Homo sapiens: one gene and its partners. The protein of the gene in region 3 interacts with the protein of the main gene of each other region in a biochemical or structural test. Each region holds a gene or a part of one and is shown on either strand. Other genes may lie near its edges. The genes, in order: AIG1, GORAB, RCHY1, CAMK2G and SRPRB.

Evidence for each region.
Region 1: the proteins of RCHY1 (region 3) and AIG1 form a complex in vitro, tested with the Homo sapiens proteins (one study listed by BioGRID).
Region 2: the proteins of RCHY1 (region 3) and GORAB form a complex in vitro, tested with the Homo sapiens proteins (one study listed by BioGRID).
Region 4: of the proteins of RCHY1 (region 3) and CAMK2G, one has a biochemical effect on the other in vitro, tested with the Homo sapiens proteins (one study listed by BioGRID).
Region 5: of the proteins of RCHY1 (region 3) and SRPRB, one has a biochemical effect on the other in vitro, tested with the Homo sapiens proteins (one study listed by BioGRID).

The regions. Positions count from the first base shown.
Region 1 is NC_000006.12:143,063,868-143,067,389, forward strand, and holds part of AIG1 (androgen-induced gene 1 protein), read left to right. Parts: intron 1-3,522. UniProt on the Homo sapiens protein: Hydrolyzes bioactive fatty-acid esters of hydroxy-fatty acids (FAHFAs), but not other major classes of lipids. Show a preference for FAHFAs with branching distal from the carboxylate head group of the lipids.
Region 2 is NC_000001.11:170,549,157-170,551,762, forward strand, and holds part of GORAB (RAB6-interacting golgin), read left to right. Parts: intron 1-2,606.
Region 3 is NC_000004.12:75,493,904-75,497,425, forward strand, and holds part of RCHY1 (RING finger and CHY zinc finger domain-containing protein 1), read right to left. Parts: intron 277-3,522; coding exon 198-276; intron 1-197. UniProt on the Homo sapiens protein: E3 ubiquitin-protein ligase that mediates ubiquitination of target proteins, including p53/TP53, TP73, HDAC1 and CDKN1B. Mediates ubiquitination and degradation of p53/TP53; preferentially acts on tetrameric p53/TP53.
Region 4 is NC_000010.11:73,819,054-73,822,575, reverse strand, and holds part of CAMK2G (calcium/calmodulin-dependent protein kinase type II subunit gamma), read left to right. Parts: intron 1-845; coding exon 846-894; intron 895-2,930; coding exon 2,931-3,044; intron 3,045-3,522.
Region 5 is NC_000003.12:133,812,293-133,815,814, forward strand, and holds part of SRPRB (signal recognition particle receptor subunit beta), read left to right. Parts: intron 1-3,297; coding exon 3,298-3,434; intron 3,435-3,522. UniProt on the Homo sapiens protein: Component of the signal recognition particle (SRP) complex receptor (SR). Ensures, in conjunction with the SRP complex, the correct targeting of the nascent secretory proteins to the endoplasmic reticulum membrane system.

The DNA of each region.
Region 1 (3,522 bases), on a different chromosome or scaffold from region 3:
CTGGCTGTATTCATTTCTCTCCTTGGGTATGAGGGTCATTCCAGTAGATTCAGAGCTTATGGTCAAAAACTGAAATACACATTGTTGCTACCAGTAATCTTATACTGTTATTCTCCAATGGTTTCTTTTCCTAGTATTGAGAAACTGTAAGAGAACTAAGGTGTTTTTGGAAAATTGAAGTTAGTAAATGGAAAAAGAACACTGTCTTGGTGTGGTAGGCAGAATAATGGGCCTCCAAAGATGTTTACATTCTCATGCCAGGAACCTGTGAATACATTAGGTTACATGGCAAAGGGAAATTAAAGTTGCAGATGGAATTAAGATTGCAAATCAATTGACCTTAAAATAGGGTAATTATCCTGAGTTATCCCATTGGGCCCAATGTAATTACAAGGGTCCTTAAAAGGAATAGGGAAACAGAAGACAAGAGCTTGTTGGAGGAAGATGTGACTGGAAGAAAGTCAGAGAGAGATACGACAATGCTGGGTTTGAAGATGGAGGATGGAGCCAGGAGACAAGGGGTGTGAGAGGTGTCTAGAAGCTGGAGAGGACAAAAAAATGGTTTTCCTCCTAGAGTTTCCAGGAACACATACCTGCTGACAGCTTAATGGTAGTGTATTTTGGACTTCTGACCTCCAGAATTGTAAAATAATAAATTTGTGTCATTTAAGCCATTCAATTGATAGTAATTGGTTACCACAGTAATAGAAAACTAGTATACTTGGCTTTAAAGCCTCTGACTTAGAAAAAAAACTTAACTCTTTTTGTACTTATATGAAATAAATGCAGTGACTCAGCTAGCCCTTTATGTATAGTAGATAACTGGTTAATTTTAGCTTTAACAAAAATGCAAGTTTTTTCCTACTTCATCCATGAAATTATGTGGAGGAGACATACATATGTGTAACAGTGGGCAATATGAGGATTTGTAAAGACTGGACTGTCAAGCGTGTCTGTGTGAAGAGACCACCAAACAGGCTTTGTGTGAGCAATAAAGCTTTTAATTCACCTGGGTGCAGGCGGACTGAGTCTGAGAAAGGAGTCAGCGAAGGGAGATGGGGAAGGGGTTGCTTTATAGAAGTTGGGTAGCTAATGGAAAATTACAGTAAAAGGTGGTTATTTATTGTTAGCAGAGAAGGGGGTGACAAGGTACATGGTGGGGAGATCATAAGACTTATTGTCCAGAAGAAGAATGTCACAAGGTCGGTTGATCAGTTAAGGTAGGGCAGGGACAAGTCACAACGGTGGAATGTTGTAATGTTGGTTAATCAGTTAAGGCAGGAATTGGCTGTTTTACTTCTTTTGTGGTTTTTCGGTTGCCCCAGACTTCTTGGCTCCTGCAGGCCATCTGGATGTATATGTGTAGGTCACAGGGGTTACAATGGCTGAGCTTCGGCTTAGAGGCCTGACATGGACAACTTTGGAAAAACTAGGTCTTTACTATGAAGTATTTCAGAGACTATCATTAAGTAACATGTCAGGCCAGGAGAAGAAATACACTTAATTGGAAATAAGCTGGAAAGAAAGAAAATTTAAACTAGCTGTTACTCAAATATTAACACTTTCTTAGTCAATATCACAGCTGATGAATTTTCTTCAAGTGATGTGGATTCATTCACTAGCAAAATGATTATGCTGTGTGTTACATGATAATTGCCCCAAAAGATAATAAAGAAGAATTAGGATAAAACCAACATAAATAAATGAAAAGAAAAAGGCAAATGTATTTTGAGGTCTTAAAGTAGTATTTGGGGTATAATAGGTGTTTAGTAAATGTTTAAGTAAATGGAAGCTTTCTCTTCCCAAATTTTCATTGAGTATTCTTTTCTTGTCCTGTCTCCTCCCAAAAACATTCAAAATGATAGGAATTTAAAAATGTATCAACCAGAACATTATTCATATGTATATGGTAGAGTCTAACAGATGAGTCAGAATCAACTTCTTTGAAAACCATGAACTGGATTTTTTAGAAAACTTAAAATATTGATGATGGATGTAAGACATCTTGATTTTTAAAGATTGAAACATATCTGGGAATCCCATTGGCTCTAGTTTGTAGTACTGGCCATTTTGAGAGTCATCCTCTCTTAGGGCCGTATCATACCCATTATTCCTCCTAGACTGGCTTTTCATTCATGTCATGGCAGAATATTGTTCAGGCCCTGCCTACTCAAAGTGCGGGCTGAGGACCAGCAGGATCAACTTTGTCTGGGAGCCTGTAAGAAATGTGGCATCTCCAGCTCCACCCCAGAGCTTCTGAATCAGAGTCTGCATTTTAATAAGATCATCAGGTGATTTCTATGCACATTCAAGGTTGATAAATGCTGCTCTAAGTTGCATTGTTTTTTCATTTACATGGATTAATTGTAGGACCCTGTAGAGCAGTCTTAATATATGAATTCTGCCTATTTTCTTTGTTTTTTTTTTGAGACAGAGTTTCACTCTGTCACCCAGGCGAGTGCAGTGGTGATCTTGGCTCACTTCAACCTCCGCCTCCCAGGTTCAAGAAATTCTCCTGTCTCAGCCTCCCGAGTAGCTGGGATTACAGGCACCTGCCACCACACCTGGCTAATTTTTGTATTTTTAGTAGAGACAGGGTTTTACTATGTTGGCCACACTGGTCTCAAACTCTTGACCTCAAGTGATCTGTCTGCATTGGCCTCCCAAAGTGCTGGGATTACAGGTGTGAGCCACCGCGCCTGGCCTGAATTCTGCCTATTTTCAAAACATATTACAGATTGACTTTCACTGTGATATAACAAAAAAATGTAAGAAATTACAATTTGAAAATAAAAGAAAGATATGTTTCAGATACGAGAGATGGGTTAGTTATTGCTATTGAGAAACAAATTTAAATAATCTTCAGGGCAACTAAGGTGAAAAACAATACACATTTGATTGTATTGTCCTTATGTTGAAAGAAAGGAGGTATAACAATTTATTGGGAAAAATACAGTTCTTTCCAGGCACTGACTTTTCAAGGTAATTTATCACTCAGATATTTATTTAAAGAACATTAAGGGTGGGTATGGTGGCTCACACCTGTAATCCCAGCACTGTGGGAGGCCATGGTAGGAGGCTTGCTTAAACCCAGGAGTTCGAGACCAGCCTGGGCATCACAGCAAGGCTCCCACTACAAAAAATTAAACATTATTTGGGGGTGCTTGCATGTGCCTGTAGTCCCAGCTATGTGGGGGCTGGGGCAGGAGGATGACTTGAGCCCAGGAGTTCGAGTTTGCAATGAGCTATGATAGTGCCACTGCACTCCAGCCTGAGTGACAGAGCCAAATCCTGTCTGTAAATAAAAATAAAAAAAAAACATTGGTTAGCATAGTAGATAATGTCTTTGATTGGTTTTTAGTGTAATATATAGAAAAATTTTTATGGTTAATGTTTCTTATTTGATGGTTTTATGAAAGCCAAAGGCATGGTCTTATATTTTGGCTAGGTGAAGGCATTTTTGTAGAAGTTTAAGGTAATATAATCTAGGTACTTTTTTTGTTATCTAAATCTGTATTGCAA
Region 2 (2,606 bases), on a different chromosome or scaffold from region 3:
CCTTTAAAATAACAAAACAGTTCTATAATTACATTTCCAGTTCACTCTGTCTTACTGTGTTATGTATAATGCTCTTATTATTTTGTTCCAGAATGTCATCATACACTAATTTGGTATTACCCACCTGACCATAGGCTGGTAGTGCAGTTTGTGAAACTAATCAATATTTTAAACATTAAATCACTCTGTGGGAGAATATATATTCGTATTTCTGGCCAGAAGGACTTTAAATAAATAAACAAAATACAAAATCTTCAGTGATTTATCCAGGGTGATAGATCAATGGAAACCAAGGGACCTGTTCGCAAATGTTAATTTCAATTCAGTATTCATGAATCCAGACTGTAAATCTCTACTGATTGACTTTGACTGGCTGAAGGAGACCACAGACTTGCAGAAAAGGGAGGTTTGAGGCAGGGTCAGGGCAGGGTATTCATACACCTATAGAGAATGTCAGAACTCTTGTCTTGTTGCAAGAACATTACATGAACAGGGTATGTTATAAAGTATGGAGATAAGGGAACTAGGTATCCAGTAGAGTTCCTTTAGAACAATTCTTTTAACATAGAGGGTTATTGAAAGATAATGGGTGCTCTCATTTTTACATTTACTATATTTACAGTTAAAAAAGGAAATAGGATAAATTAACATTATGTAAATGAGTTTTCAAGTATAAATACCAGGTCCCTAAATTTTCCATAATCTTAATTTTAGATTCATGCTTACTAATATATTAACAGTACTTTTTGATTCTGGTGTTCTAAATGAGAAGTTCTGTTTCTTGAGCACCTACCAGGCACAAAACTGGAAGTTTGCCCCATTTATACTGTTTAATCTTCAAAACTCCTATGAGGTATTATTATCATCATTGTTTTACAGGTAGACCAAGACTCAGCTTAAGTAACTGCTCAGAGTCACTGTGCCGGAATTTTCAGTTATTGCATGCCTCTTCCCCAACCCCTTCCAGAGGAACCTGGCTGTGTTTTGGACTCAGGATGCTGACCTGGGGCATACCTAATTAGAATAGTGATGGGCTACCGACTCCAGTACATTTAATCCATAGGCTAAATAGTGGTTCACGGCATGGCCTGACACTAAGAGTTCTGTTTAAACTGAGATGAGCCGGGCAAACCTATGTTCTCCTCTGAGAGTGTGGAATTGGATCACTGAGAGATTGGGTGGAGTGAATTTGATACAGAGTGCAGGTGGTGGCCATATTGGCCTGTGAGTATGATAGGAAAGCTGAAATGAGAGAAAATGTGTCGCTTCTAAGCATTGAAAAGAATAGCCTTTGATTCTGATGACATGACTATGAAATTGCCTCGTGTATCCTACAATAAAACCCAATTTTTACCTGAGCTAGTTTGACTGGATATCTGTTCTTTGTATCCACAAGAAGCCTTGACCGAAATGGGTACACATGGTAAATGTCAGGAAGGTTTTGAACCCTGAGTTTTCTAAAATGAAAGCCATTTATTATTTTCACTGTATTTTCTTCCAAGACAGAGAATCCTAAATTAGGAGATATACCTGTTTCTTTTTTGCTATAACTCTTGTACTAGAAGCTACTTATTACACTAAGTTGATGTAGGCACTCATAACAGGTAAAGCAGCATGGCCTTCACAACTGCTAATGGTAATGAAATTAAAGAACTAGTTGGAAATCAATCTTTTTTCTTGCAAGAGAGGAAGGACCCTCTTGTTGCAAAAAGAAAAGCAACAAATTTTATAGAAAAGGCAAAAGACAATAAATTAAGACACGATAACTCTTCTTTTTGTACTGACCTAATGCAGAAGAAAAAAAGTGAGATTGCAAGGTGACTTCTCTAGTAGAATTGCCCTATTTCACATAAGACTTCACATAAGATTACCTGTCAACAGAGTTTATACATGTGTAACTATGTAAAATTTCCTAGTAAGAGTGTAAGAGGAGTAGTGGAGAGAATGAGAACAACTTAACCCAAGGATTCTCAACTGGGAGCATTTGTGTCCAATAAGGGACATTTGGCAATGCCTGGGGACATTTTTGGTTGTCATAAATTTTGGGAATTACTGGCAACTAATGGGTAGAAGCCAGTGATGCTGTTTAGCATCTTGCAGTGCAGGACAGCTTCTCACAACAAATAATTATATGGCCCAAATTGTCAGTAGCACCAAGGTTGAGAAATCCTGCATATAGCTATCCTGAGGTTTTCTACTTGATGTTTACTTCTTGCCCTCACCCAGTATCATTTTGCTGGGTGTGCTCTGTTCCATTTATATTCATCTCCCGACCACTGTCCGTATCTTTCTCCATCAGAATTTTTCTTTTTTTCTAATTTATTAATCAAGAGAACAATTTTCCACTTTCTCCATCTCTTGTCTGTCTTCTCATAAATTTAACCAGCTGTGTGCTGAAGCTAGCTTACCCTGGTTCATGTGGATTTTGTGTATCTCTTCCCAGTTCTGCATTCAGTAATATCACGTTGGTGGCTTGAAATTGGACAGGGTGGTAGTAATTATCCCATGGAAATGTAAACGCTACAAATCAGGGCTCCCCATCCTCCCACCCCAGAACTAGCATACCACTGAATTAACCTTTTAGCCTGCCTTCACTCAAAAACAGC
Region 3 (3,522 bases):
AAGAAAAGGAACTGTAGGTCAGATATTCTGAGGTACATATTTTAAAATATCTACTTGTTAATACTGCTTTTCAAAAAAGCAATATAGTTGCACTTGGAAATACATGAAAATTAGCATGCTTCCAAAACATATTAGAAGTTAAGCTTATTGCAAAAACACTGTAATATTTTTAAAATTATACAAACTAAATTATATACCTTGTGTCTTCCTTGAAGATTCATAGCTAGGCATAAGTTACATTTCAAACAATGGAAAAAATCTTCCTTTGGACCAATCCTAGCAAAACACATGAAAGCCAAAAGATTAGATTATTTTTTACTACAGTCATGATTTGTTCATTATGTAAAACACAAGTTTAGTCTCTGTAAAAAAAATTTCCAGCCACAATGGAGAATATGGGATAAATCCCTATCTCCCCAACATCCCTCTCCAAATGTAAGCACTATACACAGAGTGGTATCTACCCTTCTAGGGCTTTTTTTTCTTTTTCTATAAAATTGCAAAAAGAGAGAAACACAGACACACACACACATTTCGGGTTTGATTTCTTACATTAATGGATTCTTTCTACAGATGCCATTCTGCAACTTTTTTTCACTTGATATATTCTGAGGATTTTATGTCTGTCTACACAGAACCACTTCATTCTTCTTAATAGCTACATTAATGGCATGGATGTATACTAATTTTTTTAAATATTCCCTCAGAAAGATCATAATTTATGATCTTTAGTTGCTACAATGATACAGTAAACATCCTTGTCCAGACATCACTTAGTTCACATGTTGATTATTTTTTACGAGATTCCTAGAAGTGAAACTACTGAGTCAGAAGATGTTGCAACATTAATTGTGATACTGCCAAACTGACCTCCAAATAGACAGTACCAATTTATACTTCCACCAACACTGCATGAGAGTAACCATGTTCCCCACACTTTGGGTAACATGGTTACTTGTATTATAGACAAACAAAAGATGTCATTTTAATTTGCATTTCACAAATAATGAGACAGGGACTGTACATTAATGAACTACTTGGATTTCTCTGTGGATTGTCTGTTCATATGTTCTGTCCATTTTTCTACTGAAGTATTTGTTTTTAACCAATTTACTGGTAAAAAATATATCATGAATATTAGTTATTTATATAATGAATATCAATGTTTTCATTCGCATGTATTATATTTATATATCACCAATATCAATTTTTTATTTGCATATTTTATATTTACTTTTCTGGTCTGTGATTTCTCTTAACTTTGTCATATAGCCATTTTTAATTACTATGTGGTAAAAAGTCATCAATATTTTCCTGTATAGCTTATGCTTTCTGCCTCTTGTTTAGGAAACTTTTGTAACCTATAGATCATAAACAGACTCTCCTATGTATACTTCTAGTACTTACAGCTTTTCATTTTTATATTTTTCTTTAATCCATTTGAAATTTGCTATATATGGCAAAGGTTAGATTGCTACTTGTCCCTAAATTTCTATTCTCCACTTCTTCTACAATGATAGGGTATTTAGCTAGGCACTGAGCTATTCAGAACTGTCCTGAATAAAGACTATTTTCCAACATACCTGGACGTTGGGAACAGAAGAGATACATGAAAATTCTGCATTGTACCCTCAAGAGGAAAAATATGCCTTCCCTTCACCTAACTAGCCTTTCTACAGACCAGAATATGAGGCATTTTAGACTACAGAGACAAGAAAATATCTTATGGGTGACAAGGCAAAAAACAAGAAGAGCCTGAGTTCCTGTTTAGCTACACAACTCAGATTTATTTCCATGAGAAATGAACTTCTGCCTTTCTTGAACCACCATTACTTTGGGTTTCTGTCACAAGATGCTAAATCCATACTCTAATGAATACAGTTTGAAGAGTCAATTTTTGGTTTCCGAATGGATAATCAATTATCTTAATACTACCCTTTCCTGATTTGAAATGTCACTTTTGCCATAAATTCATATGTATAAATATTTGTCTGTGTATATACACACACACATATTTATCTATTCGTCTATTCCTGCACAAACAGCAAACTATTTGAATTACTATAGCTTTATCATGTTTTGATATGTGGAACGGCAATCCACTCTTCGTTGTCCTTCCTTCAAAATTTACTCAGCTATTGTGAATTTTCTCTTACAAATGAACTTTAGAATAGGCTGTCAAACTCCATAAGTAAAATTCTGCAGGGACGTTTCCACTACTGCCAAAGATAGAATAACGGAGATCAGACCTACCCTCCCATCTGAAAAAATAATGACAAAAGACAGAATATATGAAACAGCAGTTTCACTGAACATCAGGCAACAACACAGAGTGATCTGTGAGAGATAAGAAACAAAGTAAGTGAGCCCTAAAATTGCTCATTTATTGCCTAGAGAGTTTTGAGGCCAGGACAGGTTAGAAGAACTAAGGGTGAGCTAGGAAGACATCATGATTGAAATGATGAGCTGAGACAGTCTAGAGAAACCAAGACAGATTCATAGGACAGAGCATCAGATAGGAGAGAGCTGCACAGAGAAACCTCTGAAATATTTAGTAGGATACCCATCAGCACATGGATGTAAGAAAACTACCCAAAGCCAGGGAAACAACCTTCTAAAGAATGAGAACAGTACTACTCACACATGGCTAGGAACAGTGCCTGATCCCATCAAACAGACTGGGGAAACTCATAATTCGCAGGCTCCGGGTGGAGTATTCAGAAGGATATTGCCTCAACAGTGGAGAATAGCCCTGGGATAAGCCCTTCTGTAGATCTACCTAACAAATTAGAAAAGTAAATCCCAGAAAGTCTAAACTGTTTCCAAGTAACTTAACTGCATCCCAAAATAAAGCTCAAGAAGATTTATAGGAATACAAAAATACCCAGCACTAAACATGATAAAAAGAAAAATCACATCTGATATCCAACCCACAATAACCAGGCAACAAAGAGGCAGAAAAACACAACCTAAAATGAGAAGAATAATCAATCAATCAACCCAGAACAGACACAGATGTTAGAATTAATACAGGGCATTAAAAGTTATTATAACTGTATACCATTACATTAAAAAAGTATTAAATATGAAAAATATGTTTAAAGACCCAGATCAAACTTCTAGACATAAAAACTACAATGTCTGAGATTTAAAAATACACTGATGAAACTAATGGCAAGTTTGATATTGCTAACAAAAAGGTTAGTCAACTTGAAGGCACAGTAACAGAAACTATCCGAAATGAAATAGGAAGAAAAGGGAATTTTTTTAAAACGACAGAGCATGAGTAAGCTGTGAGACAACTTCAAGCAACCTAACATACATGTGTTCAGTTGAGCCTAACGCTGCCTCCTACATATTTTAAGATCGTCCTAAAAGGCTTTGCTGTACATAGTTAACTGTAACCTAACTGGATGTGTTTACCTACAGTAACCTACTCTAGTACCAATCAATCACCAAGTTTCATCCAATCACAGGCAGTCCTCGGTTCAAACTGTGTTTAAATAAGGCAAATGCTGAGCT
Region 4 (3,522 bases), on a different chromosome or scaffold from region 3:
TTCTTCCAGCAGCAAGGAGAAGCTATTGGGAGTTCTTAGCAGGAGTAACAGAATCTAGTTGACACTTTAAAACACCACTCTGGCCTCATGATCAAGAACTCTAGGGAGGCCCGGGCGTGGTGGCTCACGCCCGTAATCCCTGCACTTTGGAAGGCCGAGGCGAGTGGATCAGCAAAGGTCAGGAGCTCGAGACCAGCCTGGCCAACATGATGAAACCCCATCTCTAATAAAAATACAAAAATTAGCCAGGCATGGTGGCAGGCACCTGTAATCCCAGCTACTCAGGAGGCTGAGACAGGAGAATCACTTGAACCCGGGAGGCAGAGGTTGCAGTGAGCCGAGATCATGCCATTGCACTCCAGCCTGTGCAACAAGAGCAAAACTCTGTTTCAAAAAAGAAAAACTCTAGGGAGGAGGTAAGTGTGGAAGTTAGGGAGACCATGAAGCTGTTATCATGGTTCAGGTGTGAGATGCTGGTGGCCTGGAGTCAGGTTGTAGCTGTGCATTGGAAGTGAAGAGGTAAGACATGGGGTTTACTTTGGAGGCAGAACCAGAAGATTTTATTTTAGATTGGGCGATCTGAATATAAGGGAAAAAGAGAAAGAGAAGGATTGAGGATGACTCCAGGTTTTAGCCTGAGTAACTGGGTAGATGGTGGCATTTACCAACTGGGGGAAGACTAGGGAGGGGATTTGGGAAGAGTCAGACAGCCAGGGTGGAAGCAGAACCTTCCACAATTCCTCCTTGCACCTCTTGTAGGAGCAGAAACTCTGCTTTTGTTCTGCTTTGCTCCTCTGGCTTCCAAGGGATGGAGCATATAGAAACATGTTCTTTTTGGCCTACAGGGCTCCACAGAGAGCTGCAACACCACCACAGAAGATGAGGACCTCAAAGGTAGGTGCTGGCCCTTGGAGGGGGAAGGACTCCAGCAGTGACCCAGGTACCTGGGCTCCAATGGGGCACCTGCCTTTTCTGTCCCCAGAACTGGGAATGCTGGCTCCTATGCCCCTAGGAGAGGGCTTGGTATAAAAGCTACTTTCCACGAGCCAAGATATGAGGCCCCTGTCTGGTGTTGCTGAGTTGGGCAAGAGGCTTCTCTTCTTTGACCCCAAGTCTAAAATAGCTAAGCTAGAGATTCTCCAGGGGCCAGGGCTCAGAGAACTGTTCCTGTTGCTGATAATGATGTGCCATCCAAGAACAGGGGTACCCCAAGTCCCTGCCGAAGTAGCCTGTAAGTGCTATGAGTCATAAATAGAGTGACCAATCACTCCTGGTTTTCCTCGGACACAGAACTTTTGGTTTTAAGACTGTGATGGGCCAGGAGTGCTGGCTCACACCTGTAATACCCAGAACTTTGGGAGGGCCAGGGCAGAAGGATTGCTTGAGACCAGGAGTTTGAGACAAGCTTGGGCAACATAGCAAGACCTTGTCTCTATTAAAAAAAAAAAATTAGGAACAAATAAATAGGCCAGGTGCGGTGACTCACACCTGTAATCCCCACACTTTGGGAGGCCGAGGCAAGTGGATCACTTGAGGTCAGGAGTTCAAAACCAGCCTGGCCAACATGATGAAACCCCGTCTCTACTAAAAATACAAAAAAAGGCCGGGCGTAGTGGCTCACGCCTGTAATCCCAACACTTTGGGAGGCCAAGGTGGGTGGATCACCTGAAGGTCAGAAGTTCAAGACCAGCCTGGCCAACATGGTGAAACTCCATCTCTACTAAAAATATAAAAAATTAGCCAGGTGTGGTGGCAGGTGCCTGTAATCGTAGCTACTCGGGAGGCGGAGGTGGGAGAATCGCTTGAACCTGGGAGGTGGAGGTTGCAGTGAGCCGAGATCACCCCATTGCACTCCAGCCTGGGCAACAAGAGCGAAACTTCTTCTCAAAAAAAAAAAAAAAAAAAAAAAAAATTAGCCGGGTGTGGTGGCGGGGTCCTGTAATCCCAGCTACTCGGGAGACTGAGGCATGAAAATGGCTTGAACCCGGGAGGTGGAGGTTGCAGTGAGCTGAGATTGCACCACTGCACTCCAGCCTGGGTGACAGAGCGAGACTCTGTCTCAAGAAAAAAAAAAAAAAAAAAATATATATATATATATATATATATATATAAATATAAAACCCAGATAGTCCTGGGAACACTGGGATGAGTTGGTCACTCTAGTCCTAAGATTTTGGCCTGAATGATGGAGTTGGAACTAATCTGACAACCGTGAGGCCACATTTGGTCATGTCCTGGTGGGCCCGTAAGGACCACTAGCCTAAGCTTGGGCCTGGCTAGAGTGCCAGGGCGGTGGGAGGGCATGGCAGGCTGGACCCCCGGGAATCTCTGTCCTGCTCTTTGATTGGGCCTCCTGGAATTGCTCCCTTTGCCTGAATTCAGTAAGTGACCTTGGGCCAGGACATCAGAAAAGACAGAGGAACACTCTAGGACAGAGCTGGGAGAGCATGCCCTGGGTGGCAAGGGGGCACCAAACCTTTTGGAACCAAAAAAAATAGCAGAAAGCTGCGAGGAAGTGAATCATAGTAGCTCCAGGCCCCTGTGAGTGAGGTCAGATCAGTTTTGATTCCGGCACTGCTGGCAACATAGGAGGCGCTGTCACTGCTGGGCTCTGGACCCTGTGGCCTGGCCCCCTGGAACATCTTCCCCGGGATCAGGGGTCCTTGGACAGGCTGTTGTAAGGCTCGTCTGGAAGCCACAGCCCAGGTCTGGGCACCTGCCTGGTGCCCTCAGCTGGGAGGCCTCTCTGGCAGAGGCGGCGGCGTGGGATGTCGTCCAGTGTCCACAGCAGCCTGAGGCGAGGCGTCCCCTTGCCCCGGCTCTGCAGCGCCATGGGCTCGGGGCCTGTCTGGCTTGCTCGCTCACCTGCCTTGTTCTGTTTGTTTTGGCTGCTCTGCCTTGCCCTGCCCTGCCCTGCCCTGGCTGGCTAGCTGCCCCGCTCCGCACTGGGAATGGCAGCTCGGTGCCTGAAGGACGGAGCTCCCGGGACAGAACAGCCCCCTCTGCAGGCATGCAGCCCCAGCCTTCTCTCTGCTCCTCAGCCAGTAAGTGTGAGGGAGGCACATTCTGGCTTCCGTCTCCCTGGCTCGTCCTGAAGCCCCTCAGGGACCCCCACCACAGCTGTCAGTCCCACCCACCTGCCCGTGGTAGTAAGCTCTGGGAGCATGGCCTCTGCTGGGGGTGGGGGGTAGACTGGAGGTGCTGTTGAGACCAGGCAGGGGCCCCTGAGTCTGGGGCCCAAAGAAATATGAGAAGTGTGGGTGGAAAAACATGGCCTGGGATGAGGGGAGTAGAAAGCCCCCAGGATGTGCAGTGGGCCTTGCCTCAGCGCTGAGCCAGGAAGAAGGGCAGAGTCGGAAGTCAGGTCTGTGGGGGTGGGAGTGGGATGATGGGGAAATCGTGACAGCGAGGAACTGTGTTGGGGATGTAGTGCTTCCTGAGTCTCAGCATAACAGTATTAAGAGCATGGGGTCAGAGGCAAGATAGATCTGAGTTTAAATCCCAGCTACACTGCCTTCAAGA
Region 5 (3,522 bases), on a different chromosome or scaffold from region 3:
CAAGATGGTGGTGATGAACAATTTGTCACAGATAAGAAAATTCCTTGGACAATTGAGACAAATCTAGAGCTGGTAAATTTTGCCATAATTGGGTTTTTATTTCCAATTAAATGTTTTTTCTTTTTCTATTGCCAGTTCTAAATATTTTATGATTTGCAGTATAACTACTCTGTGATTCATGTATTTTGGGTAAATAAAACATGCAAAATATGAAGATAAAACTTAGTTCAAATAAATTATAATCATGATAACATGCAAGTTGAAAAGACATTTACTATATTGGTATGTGACTTTTTTTTAATCCTACTTTCTGGCTTCGCCAAGTTTCCCTAGTGGCTATTTTCCCTCTCCTGATTTGAACATATGCTGTTGCTGTTCTTATCATGGTTCCCCTCCCCCATCTTTTAAACATTGCCTATTTGATTGTCTGAATCCAATAATATCAGTTTCCTTTTCCTGAACCTTAAACACTTTAACTTTCATCTTCCTCACATCTTCCTTTTATTTATGCTCCTTTTTAACCCCCATCCATACTTTTTTTTCCTCTTACATTCAGTGATGAGAATTACCAGGATGCTTATGGTCTTTTGCTCCCCATTGCTTCTTGAATTTTACTTCTTCCCTTTAGATTCAGTTTTCCCTCACTGAGTATATCTTTTAGAAGTGTTTCCAGAGAGGGTGATGAGTAGTCAAATGTTTTCAGTCTTTGTTCATTTGTAACTCTATTTGGCCAGCATTTTGGAATGTCTCTTTTAGCTGAGTGCAGAGTCCTGGGTGGCAGCCGCATCACTCCTGACCTCATCCATCTGTTGCAGATGAGAATGTTTTTGCCAGTCAGTCTAATTGTCATTTCACTGTAGTAAGTCTGCCTGATTTGACCTTCTATCCAGGGATAGATTTTCTTCTGTTCAAGGATGGATTTAGCTTTATCATTCTTGGAATTCAGTTGTGCTATTCCAAACCAAAGATTCTCCTCAGTTTTGGAAAATTCTCACCATCGTTTCTCCAGGTAGTGCTGTTTCCCCATGATCATTTCTCACACTCTGGAATTCTTATGAATGTTATTGAACCTTATTATTTTTGCCTTTCTTGTTTCCTCTCTATCGTATCTTCCAGATCTTTCTACTTCGCATATTGTAAGATTCCCTCAGATTTGTTTTCTAGTTTATTACATTATTTTCAGCTGAGCATGATCTCTGCTTAACTTTTCCATTGATTTATTAATATCATTTACTATATTTGTCTAAAATACTTACCTTTTCAAACCAGCCTGTTTCTTTTTATACTATTCTATTTTTTATTGTAGTTTGTAGTATTTTCTTAAATAATTTTAAACATTTACTTTATAGATAGCTTTATTATCTTAGTTTTGGGGTGCTGATTATTCTCTTTGGGGTACCAGTTATTCTCCCTCATAATTATTTTATTCTGTGCCTTGTAATTTTTGCTCCAGAACCTTTCTTCAAGAGTGACACATCATTGATATTGTGGTGGTTCTTTAATCCCGTAGGATATGAAAGCCTTGCTCCATAAGCGGTTCATAGTTCCTTCTGTTGGGGCCATAGGGCTTCAATAAGTCTGGCCCAATTTTTATGTAAGCCTTTCCCCTTGGGGGTCTTACACCTGGAGAGAGTATAAATTCATACCCTATATCTGTGTGAGGCAGTGGAGGCCCGCTGTTTCTAAGGGAACTTTTTTTGCAAGCCCCGACCTCCCTGAGACTATTTTAAGTTGTAGGCTTTGTGCAGGGCATTCAGTTCTAGCTCCCCAGCTGCATGTTGGCCATTGCATGTCTCTTATCTCCACCTGGGCATTCAAACCCTTGTCCATAAGGCTTGTATTTTTTTTTTTTTTTTTGAGACGGAGTCTCGCTCTGTTGCCCAGGCTGGAGTGCAGTGGCGCGATCTTGGCTCGCTGCAAGCTCTGCCTCCCAGGTTTACGCCATTCTCCTGCCTCAGTCCCCTGAGTAGCTGGGACAACAGGCACCCGCCATCACACCAAGCTAATTTTTTGTATTTTTAGGAGAGACAGGGTTTCGCCGTGTTAGCCAGGATGGTCTCGATCTCCTGACCTCGTGATCCGCCCGCCTCGGCTTCCCAAAGTGCTGGGATTACAGGCGTGAGCCACCGCGCCTGGCCGGTTTTTTTGTTTTTTTGTTTTCTTTGAGATGGAGTTTCGCTTTGTCACCCAGGCTGGAGTGCAGTGGCATGATCTCAGTTCACTGCAACCTTCGCCTTCTGGGTTCAAGTAACTCTTCTGCCTCAGACTCTCAAGTAGCTGGGATTACAGGCTCCCGCCACCATATCTGGCTAATTGTTATATTTTTAGTAGAGATTGGGTTTCATCATGTTGCCCAGACTTGTCTCGAACTCCTGACCTCAAGTGATCTGCCTGTCTCGGCCCCCCAAAGTGCTGGGATTACAGGCGTGAGCCACCGCACCCGGCCCCCTAAGACCTGTTGTCTGCAGTTTCCCTGGGCTGCTGCACTTTAGCTTTGATATCTCTTTGTTTCTGTCACATGAGGAGTCCCACTATGGCTGCCTTAGTTCAGGCCCTACCTGGTCACTGTGCTTCTAGTTCAAGCGCCCTCTAAGATTGCTTTGTCTTCCATTTAGGCACCAATATTCTTCATAAGACAGAAAAGCATGAACTCCACAGGTCATTGTGTCACGCCTCACTGTCTGACTTGGTTCTCCTTCATTTCCCCATCTCCCTGTGTACCAGCTTACCTTGACTTCCCCAGGGAATGTGTTTCACGTATTTGTGGCTTGAACATACTGTAGGCTGAGTATCCCTTATCCAAAATGCTTGGAACCAGAAGTGTTTTGGATTTTAGACTTTGGATTTTTGGATTGGGGATACTCAACCTGTACTTTCCAGACAGCCTGTGCCCCAATTTTTGGTCTAGCTAAGATTCAACTCAACTGTTACATTCTCCTTAAAGTTGCCTTTGACCTGGTCTCATTTAAATGATCTTTCTCTTTATTCCTGTTACACATGTGCATAGTTTTGTCTTGGCATTTATCATATGGTTCTCTATATGATGATTTGTCTTGGAGGACAGGCATCATTTCTTACTGTCTTTTTTCAGCTTCAGTCATTGATACACAGTAGCACTCAATAGTTCCTTGTTAAATGAGGATTTATGTTATATGATAACATATGCACAGACCTGCATGTGTGTCTGCTGAGTGTTAATCACCAAGATTGACTTTGAAGAAGTTCAGGATAGTTTTTCAAGATAATGATGTCCTGTTACACGTTCACATGCCAGTTTTTCTTGTTTTCTCCCTCCAGGGCTATTGTGTTTGTTGTGGATAGTGCAGCATTCCAGCGAGAGGTGAAAGATGTGGCTGAGTTTCTGTATCAAGTCCTCATTGACAGTATGGGTCTGAAGAATACACCATCATTCTTAATAGCCTGCAATAAGCAAGGTGCCATCATGTTTTCTTGCAATAATAATTGAGTTTTTTGGGGATTGCTGCTACTAAGAATTATTTCCATTATTTACAGTTGTTATTA